Homo sapiens: one gene and its partners. The protein of the gene in region 2 interacts with the protein of the main gene of each other region in a pairwise test. Each region holds a gene or a part of one and is shown on either strand. Other genes may lie near its edges.

The links. Proteins that work in one complex are often made in the same cells at the same time.
Region 1: the proteins of APOD (region 2) and TMEM45B interact in binary tests that used the Homo sapiens proteins (3 or more experiments, as listed by UniProt).
Region 3: the proteins of APOD (region 2) and GJA8 interact in binary tests that used the Homo sapiens proteins (3 or more experiments, as listed by UniProt).

The regions. Positions count from the first base shown.
Region 1 is NC_000011.10:129,846,814-129,853,847, forward strand, and holds part of TMEM45B (transmembrane protein 45B), read left to right. Parts: intron 1-3,736; exon of another isoform or gene 3,737-3,791; intron 3,792-4,848; exon of another isoform or gene 4,849-4,979; intron 4,980-5,661; 5' UTR 5,662-5,669; coding exon 5,670-5,847; intron 5,848-7,034.
Region 2 is NC_000003.12:195,568,171-195,573,940, forward strand, and holds the end of APOD (apolipoprotein D precursor), read right to left. Parts: coding exon 5,680-5,770; intron 3,196-5,679; coding exon 3,107-3,195; intron 966-3,106; coding exon 730-965; 3' UTR 535-729; downstream 1-534. UniProt on the Homo sapiens protein: APOD occurs in the macromolecular complex with lecithin-cholesterol acyltransferase. It is probably involved in the transport and binding of bilin. Appears to be able to transport a variety of ligands in a number of different contexts.
Region 3 is NC_000001.11:147,898,345-147,905,794, reverse strand, and holds the start of GJA8 (gap junction alpha-8 protein), read right to left. Parts: upstream 3,001-7,450; 5' UTR 2,934-3,000; intron 1-2,933.

The DNA.
Region 1 (7,034 bases), on a different chromosome or scaffold from region 2:
AAGGAGACAACTGTTGGCTGCCTGTGGGAACACTGTTCTAGAAGCCACAGACAGTGCAATGTCCTGAAGCAGGAATGGAGTGTTCTCAGCCATTTAAGGGAATGGAAGGGATCCAGTGTGGCAGGGGATGAGTGCTGGGAGAAATCAAAGAGATGGCTCAGGATCGTATATGGCCTTATTGGCCCTGGTAAGGACTTTGGATTTACAGAGCCATGATAATGAAACTAATGATTTCAACAAACGAGTATAATGCAACTGCTATGAAAATAGCAGGGTGGGGAAGAGGGAGAGGCTGTGAGAGAGCTCCAGGAAGTTGGTAGGTGATGCCTGACAATGATGGATTAACAAATGACCACATGCACAAAGCATTAGGTTGGTGCAAAAGTAATTGTGGTTTTTGCCATTACGTTTGCACCCACCCATTAACTACAATGGTGGAGGTAAATACCGGAGGAAACAGCTGAAAGGGTTGAAAGTGGCTTTGCTGGGGGTGAGGAGGGACAGAACATGAGGCTGTTGCTTTTCACTATAAGTCTTTCATACGAGTTGATTTTCTGAAAACTGTAAGCATTTTTTTAAAAGCTTATGAAGTTATTTTTTTTTATTTTTTTTTATTGATCATTCTTGGGTGTTTCTCGCAGAGGGGGATTTGGCAGGGTCACAGGACAATAGTGGAGGGAAGGTCAGCAGATAAACAAGTGAACAAAGGTCTCTGGTTTTCCTAGGCAGAGTGTGTGTGTCCCTGGGTACTTGAGATTAGGGAGTGGTGATGACTCTTAACGAGCATGCTGCCTTCAAGCATCTGTTTAACAAAGCACATCTTGCACCGCCCTTAATCCATTTAACCCTGAGTGGACACAGCACATGTTTCAGAGAGCACAGGGTTGGGGGTAAGGTCATAGATCAACAGGATCCCAAGGCACAATTTTTCTTAGTACAGAACAAAATGAAAAGTCTCCCATGTCTACTTCTTTCTACACAGACACAGCAACCATCCGATTTCTCAATCTTTTCCCCACCTTTCCCCCTTTTCTATTCCACAAAACCGCCATTGTCATCATGGCCCGTTCTCAATGAGCTGTTGGGTACACCTCCCAGATGGGGTGGTGGTGGCCGGGCAGAGGGGCTCCTCACTTCCCAGTAGGGGCGGCCGGGCAGAGACGCTCCTCACTTCCTAGATGGGATGGCGGCCGGGCAGAGACGCTCCTCACTTTCCAGACTGGGCAGCCAGGCAGAGGGGCTCCTCACATCCCAGACGATGGGCGGCCAGGCAGAGACACTCCTCACTTCCCAGACGGGGTGGCGGCCGGGCAGAGGCTGCAATCTCGGCACTTTGGGAGGCCAAGGCAGGCAGCTGGGAGGTGGAGGTTGTAGCCGAGATCACGCCACTGCACTCCGGCCTGGGCACCATTGAGCACTGAGTGAACGAGACTCCGTCTGCAATCCCGGCACCTCGGGAGGCCGAGGCTGGCGGATCACTCGCGGTTAGGAGCTGGAGACCAGCCCGGCCAACACAGCGAAACCCCGTCTCCACCAAAAAAATACGAAAACCCGTCAGGCGTGGCGGCGCGGGCCTGCAATCCCAGGCACTCGGCAGGCTGAGGCAGGAGAATCAGGCAGGGAGGTTGCAGTGAGCCGAGATGGCAGCAGCACAGTCCAGCTTCGGCTCGGCATGAAAGGGAGACCGTGGAAAGAGAGGGAGAGGGAGAGGGAGAGGGCTTATGAAGTTCTTGATGATGGGTGGGACCCTCATCTGTCAATGTGTAAGATGTGAAACAGCCCTGACAATGTAGCTGGTGCTAGAGGGACGGGCCTGTGTCCAGGGTTGGAATATGCTGTGCAGACCAGGAATGCTTTACATTCCGGGGTGGTCTTTTCTAGATCACTGTCTCAGTCTGCTTGTGCTGCTACAACAAAATACCACAGACTGGGTAACTTATAAAGAACAAATTTATTTCTCACAGTTCTGAAGGTTTGGAGGTCCAATATCAAGGCACTGGTATGTGGTGTCTGTTGAAGGCTGTAGCCTCACATGGCAGAAAGGGCAAAAAAGGGAAGCAACTCCCTCCATTCAGCCCTTTATAAGGGTGCTTAATCCCATCCACAAGGGAGGAACCTTCATGGCTTAATCAGCTCTTAAAGGCCCCACATCTAATACTATCACACCGGCAACACCTGAATTTTGGAGGGGACCCATTCACACCATAGCATTCCAATCCTGGCCCCCCAGAATTCACGTACTTCTCACAAACAAAATACATTCATTCCACCACAATTGCCCTCAAAAGCCTTAAATCATTCCAACATGAACTTTAAAATCTAAGTCCAGAATCTTATCTAAGTCAGGTGTGAGAGAGACTCATTCACTTTGAGATAAATTTCATCCTGAGGCAAATTTCTCTCCAGCTGTGAGCCTGTGAATTCAAATGAGTTGCGTACTTTGATTCAAATACAATGGCGTGACAGGCACAGGACAGATGTTTCTAGTCCAAAAGGGAGAAACAGGAAGGAAGAAAGGAGTAACAACAGGTCTCAAGTGAGTCCAAAACTCAACATTAGATCTTAGGCTTGAGAATAATATTATCTGACTCCATATCTCACCTTCTGAACACACTGGGGTGGGTGTTGGGCCCCCAAGGCTCCAGGTGATACCACCTCCAAGGCTTCCCTAAGTATTGGCCTACTGGGGGCTCTCTGCAGTGGCTCCACCCCGGTGACAAATCTCTGCTCGGGCCCTGAGGTCAAAGAAATCCTTTCCATCGAGGTGGAGGCGGCCGTGCTCCCACAGCTCATACAGTATGCATACCTACAGAGTCAGCACCACATGGATGCCACCAAGATTTATAACTTGCGCCCTCTGGAGCAGTGGCCCAACCTGCACCTGGTCCTGCTTGAGCCACAGCTAGGGTGACGGAGGAATGCTCTGCTGGAAATGTGGGGAGCAGAGACCTGAGGTGGCCCTAGGCAGTGATCTCTGAGACCCCGCAGGCGCCTGGGCCCTTCCCCTGAAACTGTTCTGCCGCAAGGCTCTAACCCTCTGGGCCTCTAATGAGCAAGGCAGCCCCAAATGCCTTTGGGGTCATTCTCCGAAATGGCTTTGGAGTCATTTTCCGAAATGACTTTGGGGTCATTTTCCCGTTCTCTTGATAACTAGCACCTGGCTTCCTTCTACACATACTAACCTGCTTATCAGTCCTGTGGCCATACCCGTGGTTTTCTCTCCTACACACACGTTTTTCTCTTTTTCATGGCTAGGCTGAGAATTTTTCAGATATTGACCTTTAGCTTTCCTTTTGATGGTAAATTCTGCCTTCAAATTATTTCTCTTTTCTCACGTTTTTTTTTTTGTTGATGTTGTTGTTGTTTTTGAGATGGAGTTTTGCTTTTGTCACCCAGGCTGGAGTGCAATGGCGCGATCTCGGCTCACTGCAACCTCCCTCTCCCGGGTTCAAGCGATTCTCCTGCCTCAGTCTCCCGAGTAGCTGGGACTACAGGCTCCTGCCACCGCGCCCGGCTAATTTTTTTATGTTTAGTAGAGACAGGGTTTCACCATGTTTGTCAGGCTTATCTCGAACTCCTGACCTCAGGTGATCTGCCTGCCTCGCCCTCCCAAAGTGCTGGGATTACAGGCGTGAGCCACCGCACCTGGCCTCTCATGTTTTTCTATAAGCAGTTAAGAGAAGCCACACAGCATCCTGAACACTTTGCTTTCTATCTCTTCTGCCAAATATCCTAGGTCATCATTCTTAAGTTCTGCCCTCCATGAAGTCCTAGGAAACGACATAATTCAGGTAAGTTCTTTACCACTTTCTAACAAGGATAACCTTTCTTCTAGTTTCCAATACCTTGTTCTTTATTTCTGTCTGAGACCTCATCAGAATTGCCTTCACCATCGGTATCTCTATCAACATTCTGTTCATGACCACTTAGGCAATCTCTAAGAACGAGGCTTTCCCCACAGCTCATATCCCACATCTACAGCTCTCCTCTTCTTCTGAGCCCTCACCAGAATCATCCTTAGTGCTCCGTTCATGGCAATCCAGGCTTTTTTCAGCACTCACTTCAAAGCTGTTCCAGCTTGTATTCATTATCCAGTTCCAAAGCCACCCCCACATTTTTACATATTTGTTATAACCCCTGGTTATAAATGTTATAAACTCCTCTGGTACCAATTTCTGTCTTAGTCCCTGTTGTGCTGATATCACACAATACGCAGACTGGGTAATTTATAAAGAACAACAATTTATTTCTCACTGTTCTGAAAGCTGGGAAGTCCAAGATCAAGGCAGCAGCATCTGGTGTCTGCTGAGGGCTGCATCCTCACATGCAGGAGGACAAACAGGGGACCAGCTCCCTCCAGCCAACCCCTGTATGAGGGAGGGCATCTGCTCCTAGTTCAGGAGGGAGGGGCCCTCATGGCCTAGTCCCTTCTTAAAAGTCCTCTTCTCGGCCGGGTGTGGTGGCTCACACCTGTAATCCCAGCACTTTGGGAGGCCGAGGTGGGCAGATCACCTAAGGTCAGGAGTTCGAGAAAAGCCTGGCCAACATGGTGAAACCCCGTCTCTACTAAAAATATAAAAATTAGCCAGGCGTGGTGGCGGGTGCCTGTAATTCCAGCTACTCGGGAGGCTGAGGCAGGAGAATCGCTTGAACCTGGGAGGCAGAGGTTGTAGTGAGCCAAGATCGTGCCACTGCACTCCAGCCTGGGTGACAGAGTGAAACTCTGCCTCAAAAAAAAAAAAAAAGTCCCCTTCTCTTAATGCTATCACCTTGGCAACACCTGGATTTTGGAGGGGACACATTCAAACCACAGCAATCACCAACAACTGGTATTTTTCTCCCACCCTACATATTCTTTAGGTAACCACCCAGGCCAGTGGGGAAAATAATCAATCTACTTCTGAATAAATCCTAGCTATAGTTTCATGCTACTGCAAATGGGATAACAGCAAATCATGCCTGAAAATTTTTGGAATAAGGTGATGTTTACATCGTTATGCTGATTTTTACAAACTGTGAATCATATTGACCAGGTTCATTTGTACTAGACCACCACACCAAAACTTTATAAAATTATTTTCCAGTTGGGTGAAAAATGATGTTGTGCTTTCGTTTGCCCATCTCTAATTTCCGGGAGATTTATAATTTGTTTGTATTATTTTGTGAATCATCCGTTCATGTCTTCTGCCTATTCTTCTACGGTCTTTTTCTTATCAATTTGTAAAGACTCTAATGTAATAGCCAACTGCTACAAGCATGTTTCTGATTTGTTGTTTACCTTTTGATGTTCTTGATATTAAAAGATGCTTATATAGCTGAACGTTTTTCTTTTCTAGTTCCCCCCTTTATGTTTATGGCTTGGAAGTTTTCTCTATCTGAGATCAATAAATATTACCTATCCTCCTCTTTCCCCACCCTCATCCTTTTATTTTACCCACATGTTTAAAGCATTACAGACAGTGGAGTCCAGTTGGTTATGCAACTCACTTTACAGATGAGACTTCAGTGACGTAACATAAGGCTTGTTTTATGAGAATGTGTTGATCCTTCTTAACGTGGCTTATGATTTGCAATCTCAGGCACGTATTGTGTTTCCTGCCAAAATATACATTTGTTTGCTTGCTTCATTAGCCACCTAACAGCCTTCCCCTAATTTTTTAGGTGTCCTGATGGCAAATTTCAAGGGCCACGCGCTTCCAGGGAGTTTCTTCCTGATCATTGGGCTGTGTTGGTCAGTGAAGTACCCGCTGAAGTACTTTAGCCACACGCGGAAGAACAGCCCACTACATTACTATCAGCGTCTCGAGATCGTCGAAGCCGCAATTAGGACTTTGTTTTCCGTCACTGGTAAGAGCAGGGGTCATTTGGTCTAGGGAATCTCCTCATCATACCCAGAACCTTTAATTCATTTTCTGAGCCCTGTGAAATAGATGTTCCCACTGGCAGAGATAATAGGGCAACAATTTCCTGATGGCCACTAGACTATTTTATCGTAACATCCATTGTGTACAGAGCTTTATAATACTAACGGTTGACAGCTCTCACATCATGGGACACTGTGAAAAACTCAAATCAACAAGGACACAGGTATGGAAAGTTGTAGGAGCAAAACACCCACTGTATGAAAAAGATATGACACAAATAAAAAGAGAAAAAAACAAAATAGATTAGGCTCACGTACCTTAGTTGTGACAAAGTAGAAAAATCACCTTTTTTCCTCAATTGTCTCTCCCTCCAGATCCTTACAGTAGTTAACACCCAACCCACTGGCTTATCTTCATCCTCAAGTCTCAAGCGCTTATAGAGAGTTTATGTAGATTCGTAAATTAGCCAGTGGGAGAGAAAAAGCAGCAGAGGGCTGTTGAAGAGGAATTTTCCTTCACTCTGCCCCATTCCAACAAGATCCACCCACTCCCACTGTTTCCTTCGCATCCACTCCGCTCCACTGCGGCCCTCCAGGAACAAGCAGTGATGACAGTAACAAGTGTTCTTCCTCAGGACCAGCCCCACCTGGGGGGAATGAGGGGTCTTAATCTGCAACTGACAATTACCACTTGTCATCAGTGGCCTATGGCTTCTTGGAGAGAGTGAAGCAACATCGCTTCTCTTGGAGGAAGCAAAGCTTCACAGGGCTTTGTTGGTCTCATCCTGCTGAATGTCCCCACTCACCATTCAGGCATCAGAGAGGCCTCCCGTGAGAAGTGACAGGGACCTGTGGCTTAAAGGATCAGGACAGCATCAACCTTGCCTAAATAAAGCTAGGACAATTACAATATTTGGCCCCTTGACTGGGTGAAAATGGTACTCATTCAACAGCTCTCTGGCACTCCTACCACAAGCCAGGAAGTCACTGTTCCAGGCATAGGAGATACACTGGGGAACCACACAGCCGCTGCTGTCACAGGGCTTCCATTCTAGTGTCACTGGGACTTTTCCTGGGTCATTTCCACAACTTCCTGACTCTGTGTGTGGGAATTCAAAAAGGGTCTGGCTTGAGAAACAAGTATCTGGGAAACGGAGTCCAAAATGTCATC
Region 2 (5,770 bases):
GCCCAAGTAATTCACCCTGAAAGCAGCATCTACTCCAGAACGGGGGCATCTGGATTCAGGTCACCCAGAATACGCCTTTGCCATCAGCTTCCCCCACTCCAGAAACAGGATTGTTACCTTTAAATGAGGACAATTCAGTGCTTGGTTTTTTTCAACATAACTGCTTAAGGATTTTTTTTTCTGTTTTTCTTTTTAGAGGCAGGGTCTTGCTCTGTTGCCCAGGCTGGAGTGCAGTGGTGCCATCATAGCTCACTGTACCCTCGAATTCTTGGGCTCAAGTCATCCTCCTGCCACCACCTCCTGAGTAGCTAGCACGGGTGTGCACCACCATACCCAGCTAATTTTAAAAACATTTTTGTAGAGATGAGGTCTTGCTATGTTGCCCAGACTGGTCTTGAACTCCCGGCCTCAGGTGATCCTCCTGCCTCAGCCTCCCAAAGTGCTGGGATTACAGGCATGAGGCACCACAACCAGCCTGTTTAAGGATTTCTAAGCATAAGCTTATAATGAAAAACCCACAATAATTAATCCAACTTGGAATCTACTGCGAGCACAGCAGGTCAGCAACAAGTTTATTTTGCAGCTAGCAAGGTAACAGGGTAGGGCATGGTTACATGTTCAGGTCAACTTCCTTTGTCGTGGTTGATTGGTTTGTCTTTATGGGGGGGGGGTAGGGGAAAGCGAAGCAGAAGTAACATGGAGTGGGTGCAGCCTCCCTGTAGAACCTGGTTACGAGAGCTTGGGGCAGTTCACCTGGTCTGTGACCGTCATTTTCTTGACATCAATGTTATTAGAAGTCAGGATATTTTTTAGAGAGTCCACTGTTTCTGGAGGGAGATTAGGGTTTCTTGCCAAGATCCAAGCAAAATCCACGTGAAAAAGTTGGATGATGCAGGTACAGGAATACACGAGGGCATAGTTCTCATAGTCGGTGGCCAGGATCCAGTACGGTGCCGATGGCATAACTGAGAACCAGAGAGAGGCAGCATTATTGGAGGGAGAGGGCAAGAGAAATCTCAGGACAACACAAGAAGGCTGGCCCAGACAACCACCCACCAAGCCCCCCACCTCTGATTTTGTTTATCAATCCAGAAACAGAAAGACCCTGGAAAGAAGTTTGGACGAAAGCCTAGACTGAGTGTTTCTGACTTACCCTTTCTAGCACTGTTGGTGCCCTGCCTGCCTGCCTGCCTCACTCACCCAGAGAGAGAGACAGAGAGAGAGAGAGAGACAGCGTTATAGTCATCACCCATCTGCACATTTCAGCTGCTCTGTGTATTCCCAGGTGGACTGAGAACTCTTAAGCCCAGAGTGATTTTGCAAAAATCTGTCTCCCACCTCTGCCAGCAGCGGCATCATGGCCCACCTGCACTCACCCAGGCTGGCACATTCTGCCTTCCTCTCGTGGTCCAGTTCCGAAGAATAAATTTACCCAGATACAATACAGAAAACTTCACATGTCTCTCCTTATTTGAAAACTTTGACAGTCTCCTATTGTTTATGGAAGAAACTTCAAGCCTTTTAATGTGGCATTCAAGGCCCTTCCTAACCTCATGCCCCTCTTCATGTACACTCCCAGGCTCTAGGCCTCTTTATTCAGGCCTTCTTCTTCTTCGTTTTTTTTTTTTTTTTTTTTTTTTTTTTTTGAGATGGAGTTTCACTCTTGTCGCCCAGGCTGGAGTGCAATGGCGCGATCTCAGCTCACTGCAACCTCCACCTCCTGGGTTCAAGCGATTCTCCTGCCTCAGCATCCTGAGTAGCTGGGATTACAGGCACACGCCACCATGCCCAGCTAATTTTTTGTATCTTTAGTAGAGACAGGGTTTCACCATGTCGGCCAGGCTGGTCTTGAACTCCTGACTTCGTGATATGCCTGTATTCAGGCCTTCTTCTATGTTCCAGTTCCCTTCACTTGGAAATCCTTTTCCATAATCTCCCATAATCCTACAAGGCCTAACGCAAACATCTAATCCTTGTTATGCATGTAATAGTTAGCTTTCACTCCAATCCCCGTCCCTGATCCCTATGGGAAAAATACTCAGTTGAGAGTTTGGAGACCTAGGTTTAGGTCCCAACTCTACTTCTAATGAGTTCAGTGATGGCCTGCGTCACTCAGCCCACCTGCACTTTAGCTCCCTTCTTGATAAAAATAACAAGAGAAACTGTGTATAAAGCCCTTTACAGTTTACAGAGCGTGTGTATCTGGTTTATTTTCACGACACTGGGCAGTTATTTCTGGCTTGTACATGTGAAGTTAGTTGTCCATATTCATAGTGTGAGAAGAACTGTTTTCTCCTCCCAGCATTCCTTTCTTGGTCTATAAAATTAGAACTTCCTCTCCTCCCCGCTCTAGGCACTTGACTGGTGTGGGGTGGAGGAGTGGCAGAGATGAGAAGTAGGAAGTGCAGGGAGTAACTTTTGTAGCTGATGACTTCAGTGTCTACCCTGCAGGTGGGAAAGGGGCTTTCAAGCACTCTTCGTGTTAGAAAGCCTCACAGTTCTGGGTTGAACTCTCTAGTGTATCTTCGTCGGAAATAAAACTAATATTTGGTGCTTTCTCTATTGCCTGTGTCCCTTCCTCAGTTAGCTCAGAACCCAGAGGCAAATGCCTGTCATTAGGTATCTCACAGGATCCCCAACAATGTGACTGGAAAGTGGCAGAAGCAGGATTCAAACTTGCCGTCACTCTTGTCATCTCTTGCTTCCTAGTTTCTGCGCCGTGCAGGTTGTTCTGCTAATATCTGCTAATGTTTCGGGCCCCAGTTTCCTTTGGGAAACAAGACTGGGTTGTGTCTTCTGCAGCCCACACCCGGTGTGCACCTACTTGTGTTTCACCTGTTGAAACGCTAGCTAGTTATAGTAAATTGCGGGGTCACGTGTCAGTATCCACACTGGGATGTGAGCTCCATAAGTACCAAGGCCAGCTCTGTCCGGCTCATCATGGCAACCCTAGTGCGTGACATGTAGTAAGTGTTTGACAGATAATTATGTGCTGAGTGATTATAGATGACACTCAGGTGTCTCAGGAATTCTCCAAGCCGGGGCGCTAGCCTTCAGTTTGCATATTTCCTGTCCCTGAATCCTCCTGGGAAAAGTGGATACTTACACCAGGAAAACTTAACTTCCAGCTTGGCAGGCTCTGTGAGGTTAACTGGGGTGGCTTCACCTTCGATTTGATTCACAGTTCCATCAGCTCTGCAGTGAGTTAAAAAAAGAAAAAATACAAAAAACGAAAAGAGAAAAGAAAAACAACTCATTGAAAGCCAATAAGCAACGAAAGGCAAGATTTGTGCCACTAAGGACCGTGGCAGCCAACACCGTGATTTCTGGTAAGAGAGGCTCTCAAAGGCAGGCTAGACCCTAGCTCCATGGCCTGGCCTTTCCCTTGTGACTGTCTCTGAGGCCAAGCAGGGGAAGAGAGCAGCGGGGTGATAAGAAGCCGCAATTGACAAGCTCCAGGATGGGACAGTATGTTAGGCCCTTGCACTTCAACACTATCTCTGACTATCTTCTATGGCCTGAAAGACCAATTCCTGCTCCCAGTCTCCAAAGAAAGGGAGAAAAGAGAATGGAAAAACAAACAAAACAACCCAACACACAAAGAAGATTCACTTTTTTTTTTTTTTGGAGATGGAGTCTTGCTCTGTCCCCCAGGCTGGAGTGCAGTGGTGCGATCTCGGCTTACTGCAACCTCTGCCTCCCCGGTTCAAGCAATTCTCCTCCCTCAGCCTCCCCAGGAGCTGAGATTACAGGCATGCACCACCACGCCTGGCTAATTTTTTGTATCTTTAGTAGAGACGGGGTTTCACCATGTTAGCCAGGCTGGTCTCAAACTCCTGACCTCAGGCAATCTACCTGCCTCAGCCTCCCAAAGTGCTGGGATTACAGGCGTGAGCCGCCGTGCCTGGCAGATTCACTTCTTTTTAAAACGAGAAGGGCCAAAGGTACAGATGAGGATGGACTTGATCACTGAAAATAATTCAAAACAAGGAGACATAAAAGCGTTCCCCTTCTTTGGGCCTCAGTGATATCATGTGACATCGCCTGTCCCATCAAGGGGCCTGAGTCCAGAGACTCCCTCTAGTTCAGCAAGCCTCTGAGTGAGTGTGGGGGATTTCAATGTAGGCCAAGTAAAAGGAGGCAGTGAAGAAACATTTACTTTATCTCAGTGATTCTCAGGTATGCCCAGATTTCAGAGACATTAAATGTGAAGAAATGCATATCTCACAATTGATGTCACCTGACAATTAGCAGTGTCATTCCTTTCTTAGTGGCATATAACGCAGTGGTGTGTCTTAAAAGCTGGGGGCTTAGATTGGATGCAATACTTTCACCTCTTTGAATGAGCCTGCTTTCTAGATGACTCCCAATGGCCCCATGAACTTGGGAGAAGGGGAAAGGTGTGGAGATGGAGGCACCAAAGGGAGGGTGCTAAGGCATCAGGGTGCTCTTCCTAGGAAGCCAACAGAGGAGAGGATGTCTGTTTATCAATCCTCAAGGCAGAGCAGGGAGGCCAACTGAAATTAGAGCAGTCGTATGTGTTAGAAAGTCAGTAGGTTGGCCGGGCGTGGTGGCTCACGCCTGTAATCCCAGCACTTTGGGAGGCCAAGGGGGGGCGGATCACAAGGTCAGGAGATCAAGACCAGCCTGGCCAACACAGTGAAACCCCGTCTCTACTAAAATACAATTAAAAAAAAAAAAGAAAGTCAGTAGGTTAATGCTATGGTTAGTGGTGACGGATGTCCTAGAAACAGGACAATGAGCAACAGGCCAGGGATTCTGGGAACTGTGCTCTGATGTTCCCAAGTACTTTCTCTGTTTATCACCATGTAAAGCTGGAGACCGTGCCCTCCTCTCTCATCTGGATCTCAGACAGCTGGGGAAGATGGTCTGTTTCTATCTGCATACGTTAACTTAGCAACAAACCAGTCTCCTCCCAGCAGATTCTGCCCTTTTCACCGTCAATTGCATTTTGCTCTAGAACGGTTTTCAGGACACCAGTCTCTGACCATGAAGTCACAACATGTTCATGGAAAAACTGCATTTGTATTTTCAAGAGTGGAAGGTGGGTAGGAAGGAGCTCTTCCTGGGGCTCTTTTTAAGTTTATAGTTGCTTTCCAAAGCGTAGCTTTTTGGATTAATTATTGTGTTAGAAGCCCTCAGTAATAGAAATGTACACTTCTAAAGGATATCCTGTTTACATAACCTAGAGTGTGAATGTTGTGTATGTGATTCTTGCTTAATAAGAAAAGGAGCTTTCTGATAGATTAAGCTGCCCAGAGATGGGATGAACTGTCCTGGAAGGCGATGAGCTCCCAGTTCCTGGAAGTGTTTGAACAAAGCTGGATGCTTCTGTCAGCAGATGGTGTCGAAGCGGCTTCTCTCCCAGACTGGAGGTCAGAAGAGATGGTCTTGATGTTCTTTGCTACCAGAGTATCTATTTTGCAGTGAGTGCAGGAACCCTGTCAGTTTGTGCCCCGCAGGTGGTCATGGAAATGCATAAGTGGATCCTAGTCCTTGCCATCCTTGCCTGCCAAACGCTTTCCTCTCAATTCCTGCTAGGAGCAGGCAGTCCCGATCCAGCAAGGTTCCCATCCTCCCTGACCCAGGCTGCCGGACACCCAGTCACTCTGCATCAGCACTCCGCAGGCCTGGCCCCGGACGCCCACAGCCACTCACCTCAACTCCTGGTTTAACACTTTGATCTTTCCGTTTTCCATTAGTGAGTAGTTGGCCTGGATGCAGCGTCCATTCTCAAAGGTTGTTGGGA
Region 3 (7,450 bases), on a different chromosome or scaffold from region 2:
GAATCGGAACCAGCAACTCAATCCCAGCCACATGTATCTATTTTTAACTCTTCAGACTATAGTTAAGTCTAGTAATTGCCCTGGTAAGAGTGGTAGCCATTCCCATTGCCTTTTGGAAAATAGGTGGGAAACATCACAATCAGGTAAGCAGCCCAAGCATAAAGCTCACTGGTGGCAGAGCCAGGAAAAAGTTCATTTCTTATCAAATAGTTCATTCTAAAATTTATGTTAAAACAGCAATTTGAATAACTGTACTTCTATAAGATTTAGCTAATATCTTACTATCTTACTAATATCTTACTGAATCTTAACTATCTTGCTAATACTTACCCTCATTGATATATCAGTTCATTTTTGACAGTGTATTTCACTCACATACCCACATGAATGTGTGTGATGAGCACATGCTCTCAGTCCTGTATGTTAACCAATCTTGTTTTCCCCCCTTTAGTATCAAAAGGTTTTGGAGGGCAGGAACCATTTTGGCCTCATCTTTTGTGAACCATCACAACACAGAACAAAGCCCTTCACAGAGTGGGAGCTCCATAGACAGCAGTGCATGGTTCTAATAGTAATCCTTGTGAAATCTGAAATTCTCAATCCCCAAATTCCTGTAATATGAATACTAGAGACCAAGGAACTTCAGTCCTCTTGCTACAGCTAACAGCAGAAAAATTAAGAACTTGTAAAAAATGGTAAATAACAAAAAGGATAGTAAATTGATCCCCAACCAGCTGCTCTGAGACACAAAACTGCTTATTTTGTATGAGATCAAATATATAAACTGGAAGGCCAACAATTCTTGACAAGAGTGTCATGATACATGTTCATGACACAAGAAGTCGTTCCTGACCACTCATTAGTAATTTTGAAACCAAAGCCAAACAAGCCCATGTCTTTCTATACTCTAAGCCGCCATGCTAAGATTGTATTTTTTTTTAAATGTCTAGTTACAGTTTCTTGTGATAACTGAAGGAGAGAAACTGTAATTTAGGACACAATCTTTCCAACCCCATGATGTTGAAACAGGCCTACTGTGCTGTTAAGGAGAGACACTTTAGAGCTGCGAAGGGAAATGTATTGGTTTCCTGACTTCTAACAGTGAAAATTTAAAGGAAGTCAGATCAGAGAAGCAAAGCGTTCTGTGGGAGCAGGGAGAAATCTGAACCAAAGGAAGACTATTTCTCTTCTCTTTCTCAGAGATAATTCTCTGTTTTATTTTGCTTGTGAAAATTTAGTGAACAGACCTATTACAGATGGAAAATAAATGGATAGAGTTCAAGCCTCCAACCCCAGGGTGTCCATATATGGCCAGGAACATCCCACCAGAAAATGATGGCTAGAGGTAATGATTAAAATAACACCTTATGTTTGGGTATCCTTGATCTAAGTGATACATTTTCACGTATCTTATTTCAGTCCTCATAACAAGCTGTGAACTAGGCCAGTGGTTCTCAGACTTAGATTTCACAGACTAGTATAATAATAACAAACTAGTGTGACCAACATAAGGATACCAACTCCTTATTTTGCCAAACAAGGACATAAAAATAAGAGTTATTGGCTGGGCGTGGTGACTCATGCCTGTAATCCCAGCACTATGGGAGGCCGAGGTGGGAGGATCACTTGAGGTCAGGAGTTCAAGATCAGCCTGGCCAACAGGGTGAAACCCTATCTCTACTAAAAATACAAAAATTAGCTGGGCACGGTGGTGGGGCACCTGTAATCCCAGCTACTTGGGAGGCTGGGGCAGGAGAATTGCTTGAGCCCAGGAGGTGGAGGCTGCAGTGAGCTGAGATCACACCACTGCACTCCAGCCTGGGCAACACAGCGAGACTCTGTCTCAAAAAAAAAAAAAAAGAGTTATTAAATTACTAACTACAACTACAGTCTATTTTCATCATCATTTCATAAAAGGGGATTTTAACACCACAAAACTGGAGAGGACATAACTTCAGAATAAAAGACAAGCCTTTAAATTGAACACACTTAACTTGGTGAAACATTTACTACATTGTTAACTTTATCATTGTCACATTTTGGTCACAGGTTGTGGAAACCTTCATCTTGAGCTAGAACTGACAGATCCCCAGATGGATGTCTGAGAACCAGTGAACTTGGCATTATCAATCCCCATTACCAGACAAAAAGACAGGCTGGGAGGTGAAATGAGTCTCCAAGATGGGGGCTTAGCTAGTGAGGGCAGAGCTAGGCTGTGAGCCCTGGTCTTCTAGATCTAAGCCCATTACAGCATAGCCCTCCTCTGGTTTTGAAGAGGCAGAATAACACATATACATCCATTAATAAGTTATCCAAAGCGTTCAATGGCCACTTACCACTCTGGTTGGTAACCAGGTGGAAAGTGCCTCTTTTCTAGTTTCTAGAACAGCCACTAGCCAGCAGTTCTCATAGATAGACAACAGAACCTGCTCCTAGGAGGAATTTTATGGTCCTTAGCCAGATCCCTTCCTGTGCTCCATTAAATGCTCCAACATGGAAAATGCTGAGCACGAAGCCTCCGCTACCCCCACAGCATTCAGTAATTATGACTATTATTTCTATTGTAGAATTTGAGTGAAAAGGGCACAAAACTTTTTCATAAATATCAAATACTTGGTTTAGGTCCCTGTGGATTCCTGTAGACATGAAAAGAGCTTAAGAAGTCAAATTGTAGTTTGAGTTTGGACATCTCTGTTTCCCCATCCTGCTGATTATTCCAGCATTCCTCTCCCTTCCAAACCTCTGCCAGTTCTTAGGTCAACTTGAAGAGGGTTTTCAGAGTTGGAGTGTAAGTCTAGCCATCCCAGCCCAAGACTGAATCTTATTGGCAACCTTTTTCCTTTTGGAGAAGCCTATATATGGCCCTTAGATTAGGCTGAGAAAGAACAATTGGGGGGAAGGTTACAAACTAATATCACCCAAGGAAAACTTGCCAATACAAGGAGTGTCCCACGGAGAAATATGTGCTCTTTCTCTCTTGGCGCTCAGCAGCAAAATGGCAACTTTCGTCTCTTTCCTTTGCTGCCTAAAAGCCCACCTCCCACTTCTCTACCCCGCCCCTACTGTGCTGCACGACTGAGCAGATATGACTGGATTGGCCCTGATGGGTAGGTTTTACTGTCCAGCAATATTTTAAGCTCCCAGCCAGACAGCTTTTATGAAGGGAGGGATGTTTGGGAAACAATGGGAGTGAGAGAATGGGAGAGCTGTGTTGGGCACTGAGGGGAGGAGGATGGGGAAAGCTGATGTGTGAAAGCTTAGCTGGGGCTTCTGTGCCTCCCAAAGTTTCTTTTAGCAGCAGACTGGGCCTGTACATCAGTAAACCTTTGGCGTCTCTCCAGAGCGCATGAGCCTAGGGGCATTTTCCCAAGGCCTTATCATCAGCTGGGAGAATCTTAATGATGTAGGGACAGTAAGTGGTCAGTTGTGTGAATCCCTCTGCCCTGAGTCACACCAAGAGTGGTTGGTCCTTTCCAAAGGACCATATTTCATTTTTTATTGGTGGTTTGCTCTTGTCTCTCAAAGCCTTCAGCAGAATTGTGGATATTAGAGGCTGGGAAGTGTAGTGGCGGAAGGAAGGATGGGGAGCATGTTGCTAATAGATACAAAAGCACAGCTAGATAGGGGGAATGGGTTCTGGTGGTCTGCAGTGCTGTAGGGTGAATATGGTTAACATTAATTAATTAATTATTTTAATTTTTATATTTTTGTGTGTGTGTGAGACAGAGTCTCGCTCTGCCACCCAGGCTGGAGTGCAATGTCACGATCTTAGCTCACTGCAACCTCTGCCTCTCAGGTTCAAGTTATTCTCCTGCCTCAGCCTCCTGAGTAGCTGGGATAACAGACACCCACAACCACGCCCAGCTAATTTTTTTTTTTCTATTTTTAGTAGAGACGGGGTTTCACCATGTTGGCCAGGCTGGCCTCAGACTCCTGACCTCAGGCGATCTGCCCGCCTTGGCCTCCCCAAATGCTGGGATTACAAGCATGAGCGACCATGCCTGGCCGTTAACTATTTTATTGTATAGTCTCAAAAAGCTAGAGGAGAGGATTTTGATTGTTCCCAACAGAAAGAAATGATAAATGTTTGAGATGCTGAATATGCTAATTATCCTGATTTGATCATTACACATTGTATACATGTATTGAAATATCACTGTGTATCACAAATACGTACAATTATTATGTGTCAACTAAACATAAAAGGAAAGAGCTTTCTAAAAAGATCAAAACAATAAAAAAGAAACACAAACAAACCTTCAGCAGGGTGGTCTCCCTCTTTGAAAGGAGCCTTAACACTCCAAAGAATTCTGGTGCCATTTGTCAAAGTAATAGCCTTTCTCACCACGTTTCACTTATAATTACATATACTTTTGAGTAGCGGAAGTTCAATCAATGTCAGCTAACATTTTTAGACTTTAGTGCCTTCATCTGTTAAATGGGGATATGATGGTTTTGCTCACCAGGAGGCTCTTGGATTAAATTCTAATGTGGCTTAATGAGGAATGATGCTTGGAGGGCATGGACATATGCTCTCTGAGGCCCACTCCCGTCCCATCATCTGGGACTGACTATTGGTAGTATAAAAAATGGTTATTTTGACTACATTTCCAAACCAAAAATAGGGGCATTTTATCCTACAAGTTTATTCGTGAAAACAATGGAGCAAAAATAGTTGAAACTTAGATTGTTTTATGAAATCTGCAATGTATGATTACTAAATTGAAGACAACTTGGAGGGCAAACTAGACAAAAAAAATCTAAGCACTGGCTTCACCACCCCACCCCCCCTTCCTGTCCTTTCTGGTGTCATGGACATATTGCATTTTGATGGGGGCAGTTTGAAGGAGGATGGTACCAATGTTGTGTGAGTCCCCAATTCCATTTTAAATAAAATGGTCACTAGCCCAAAACCTTGTTTACTTTAGATGTCTGATTTCTTTTGAACTCCCAAGTTTGAGGGCCCACACTGACTGGGACAATGCCCTATAGCAAATCCTTCAGTTAAAAATAGATGGTCAAGGCTGATCCCTGCAATATCAATAAGGTAAGAAGTCAGAGGATGAGGGGAAAAAATCCAATCATTCTTTCTTTGGGAATATTCAGTACATGCTGATTCCTGAAGCTTGCGCTCTCCCTGATATAGTCCTATGAAGAGAAAAGAATCTACAAAGCTTCTCTTTAAAATGAAGTTCTCCCTATCCAAGGCTTCCCAGTCCAACTTGGCTAATGTAGTGGGTGGTGTCATCGCTCATCATCATTTTGTGAGAGATGGTAGTAGAGGATGCATTTGAATCCAGAAAAACGGGGCTGTCAACAAGGCTCTGAACCAGTTATAGTCTCTCGGATTTAGACAAATCTAGCTTTTCAATTTAGCACTTTCTTTGTTTTCTTACGCTGTTAACAAAGAAGATACTCCTCTACTCGTAGTACCCAATTGATTAAGTTATCTTTGTTATTGGTTCTTCTGTTTGTAGCTGGGAAGTCCTTGAAAATATAAACACTCAGTCGTGTATATCTTGGGGAAAGTTTTGAAAGAGATCGGGAAAGAGGCTCACCTTAGCTACCATTGAGAGATGACTTGTCTATTCCTACCAAGAATCACTTTCTCAGGTCTTTCAGAGGGATGTCTTCCCAGGGTGTCTGTATTGCATTATTTGAGATAAATAAGTAAATGTCTAGAATAGGAGACATAACCACATTCAAATGTAAGTTCCAATTTTATATTCTGTAATCTTATAGATTATTAGATTATTGACATTTTGGATAATCTAATGGTGGCATTCTCCTACCAGGGTTCGTTTTTCCTTTCTTTCTTTCTTTCTTTCTTTCTTTCTTTCTTTCTTTCTTTCTTTCTTTCTTTCTTTCTCTTTCTTTCTTTCTTTCTTTCTCTTTCTTTCTCTCTCTCTTCCTTTCTTTCTTTCCTTTCTTTCTCTCTCTCTCTTTTTCTTTCTTTTCTATTTTGAGACAAGGTCTTGCTTTGTCACCCAGGCTGGAGTGCAGTGGCCTGATATTGGCACACTGCAACCTCCACCTCTGGGCTCAAGCAATCCTCCCACCTCAGCCCCCCAAGTAGCTGGTACTACAGGCGCAGGCCACCACACCCAGCTAATTTTTGTATTTTTTGTAGAGATGGGGTTTTGCCGTATTGCCCAGGCTGGTCTCGAGCTCCTGAGCTCAAGCAATCTGCCTGCCTCAGCCTCCCAAAGTGCTGGGACTACGGGCATGAGCCACTGCACCTGGCCCAGGGTGCATTTCAAAAGCAATGAGGCAGTTCTTTGTGGAAAGTCTGTGGAATTTGCCATTGGAAGACCTGGCTTTGAGTGTGGCTCTTCTGCTTCCTGTGTGCGGGTGGCTTGTTTAGCCTTTCTGAGCCTCAGTTTTCTCATCTGTGAAATAGAGATAATAATCACTGCCTTTTTTGCTTTGTGAAAACAGATGGTGGCTGCTAATCTAACCTATGTGATGCTGTGAATGCCTGTTCACTTGTTGGTTATATTTGCTATGATCTGAGTGTGGCTATGTCCTGTGCCCCAGGGCCATGGGTTGGTTTGTTTCTAAGTACGTTTTGACCAAGGTTACGCACTCCCCCACTTCCACAGGGAAAATGTCAGAACTGGGAAAGACTGGAGGAGATCATTGGTCCCAGCCCTTATTTTATAGATGAGGAAACCAAGGCTAGAGTTGAAATGACACCCTAAGGTTGTGGCATAGCTCTCAAGCCCATGTGTTTTCCATGGCTCCGGGTGCCTCCAGTTATGGGACACAGACTCAATATGCAGAGAGTCTCTTTAGGGAGAACCAGGTGAGCCCTGGCCTGAGGAGAAGGGCAGAAAGATTTATGGGGCCCAAGAGGACCATCCTCAGTCAATCCCTCTGGTGACTGGAATTGGGAGATGTAGAATCTCTCTTCCAGTTACTGGGAAGTGCCAGGGGGAACGAGTCTCTGAGAAACATAGGACGGGGGGCTGTGGGAGAATCCGGTCACTTCTCTGAGTATTTCAAGCCCAGCTCTGACTTAGTGGGCAATGTTTAGAGATTCATTCAATAAGTAGTTGTTGAGCTCCCACCCTTTAAGGTGTGTGGGACACTTTGGTAAGACAAAGATTCCTAGTGGGGAGGTGGAGAATAGGCATTAAACACAATGAATGAGTGAATTATACAGAACATTTGAAGGTAGTAAGTACCAGAAATGAGAACATATGGCAGGGTGAGGGGGATTGGGATTGCTGGTGGAGGGGAGGTGGTGCCCAAAGAGACCTCACTGAGGTGAGATTTGAGCAATTTTTCAAGAAGGTGAGAGAATCGTGAGGGCATGGGGGCGAAGCTTGAGGCAGCAAGGAAGCCAGAGGGGCTGTGGTAGAGTGGGCAAGGACAAACATAATTGGGAAATGTAATTTTAATCTGTTGGTTGTTCATCTATGTATTGTTTGTTCACCTGCATGTCTTC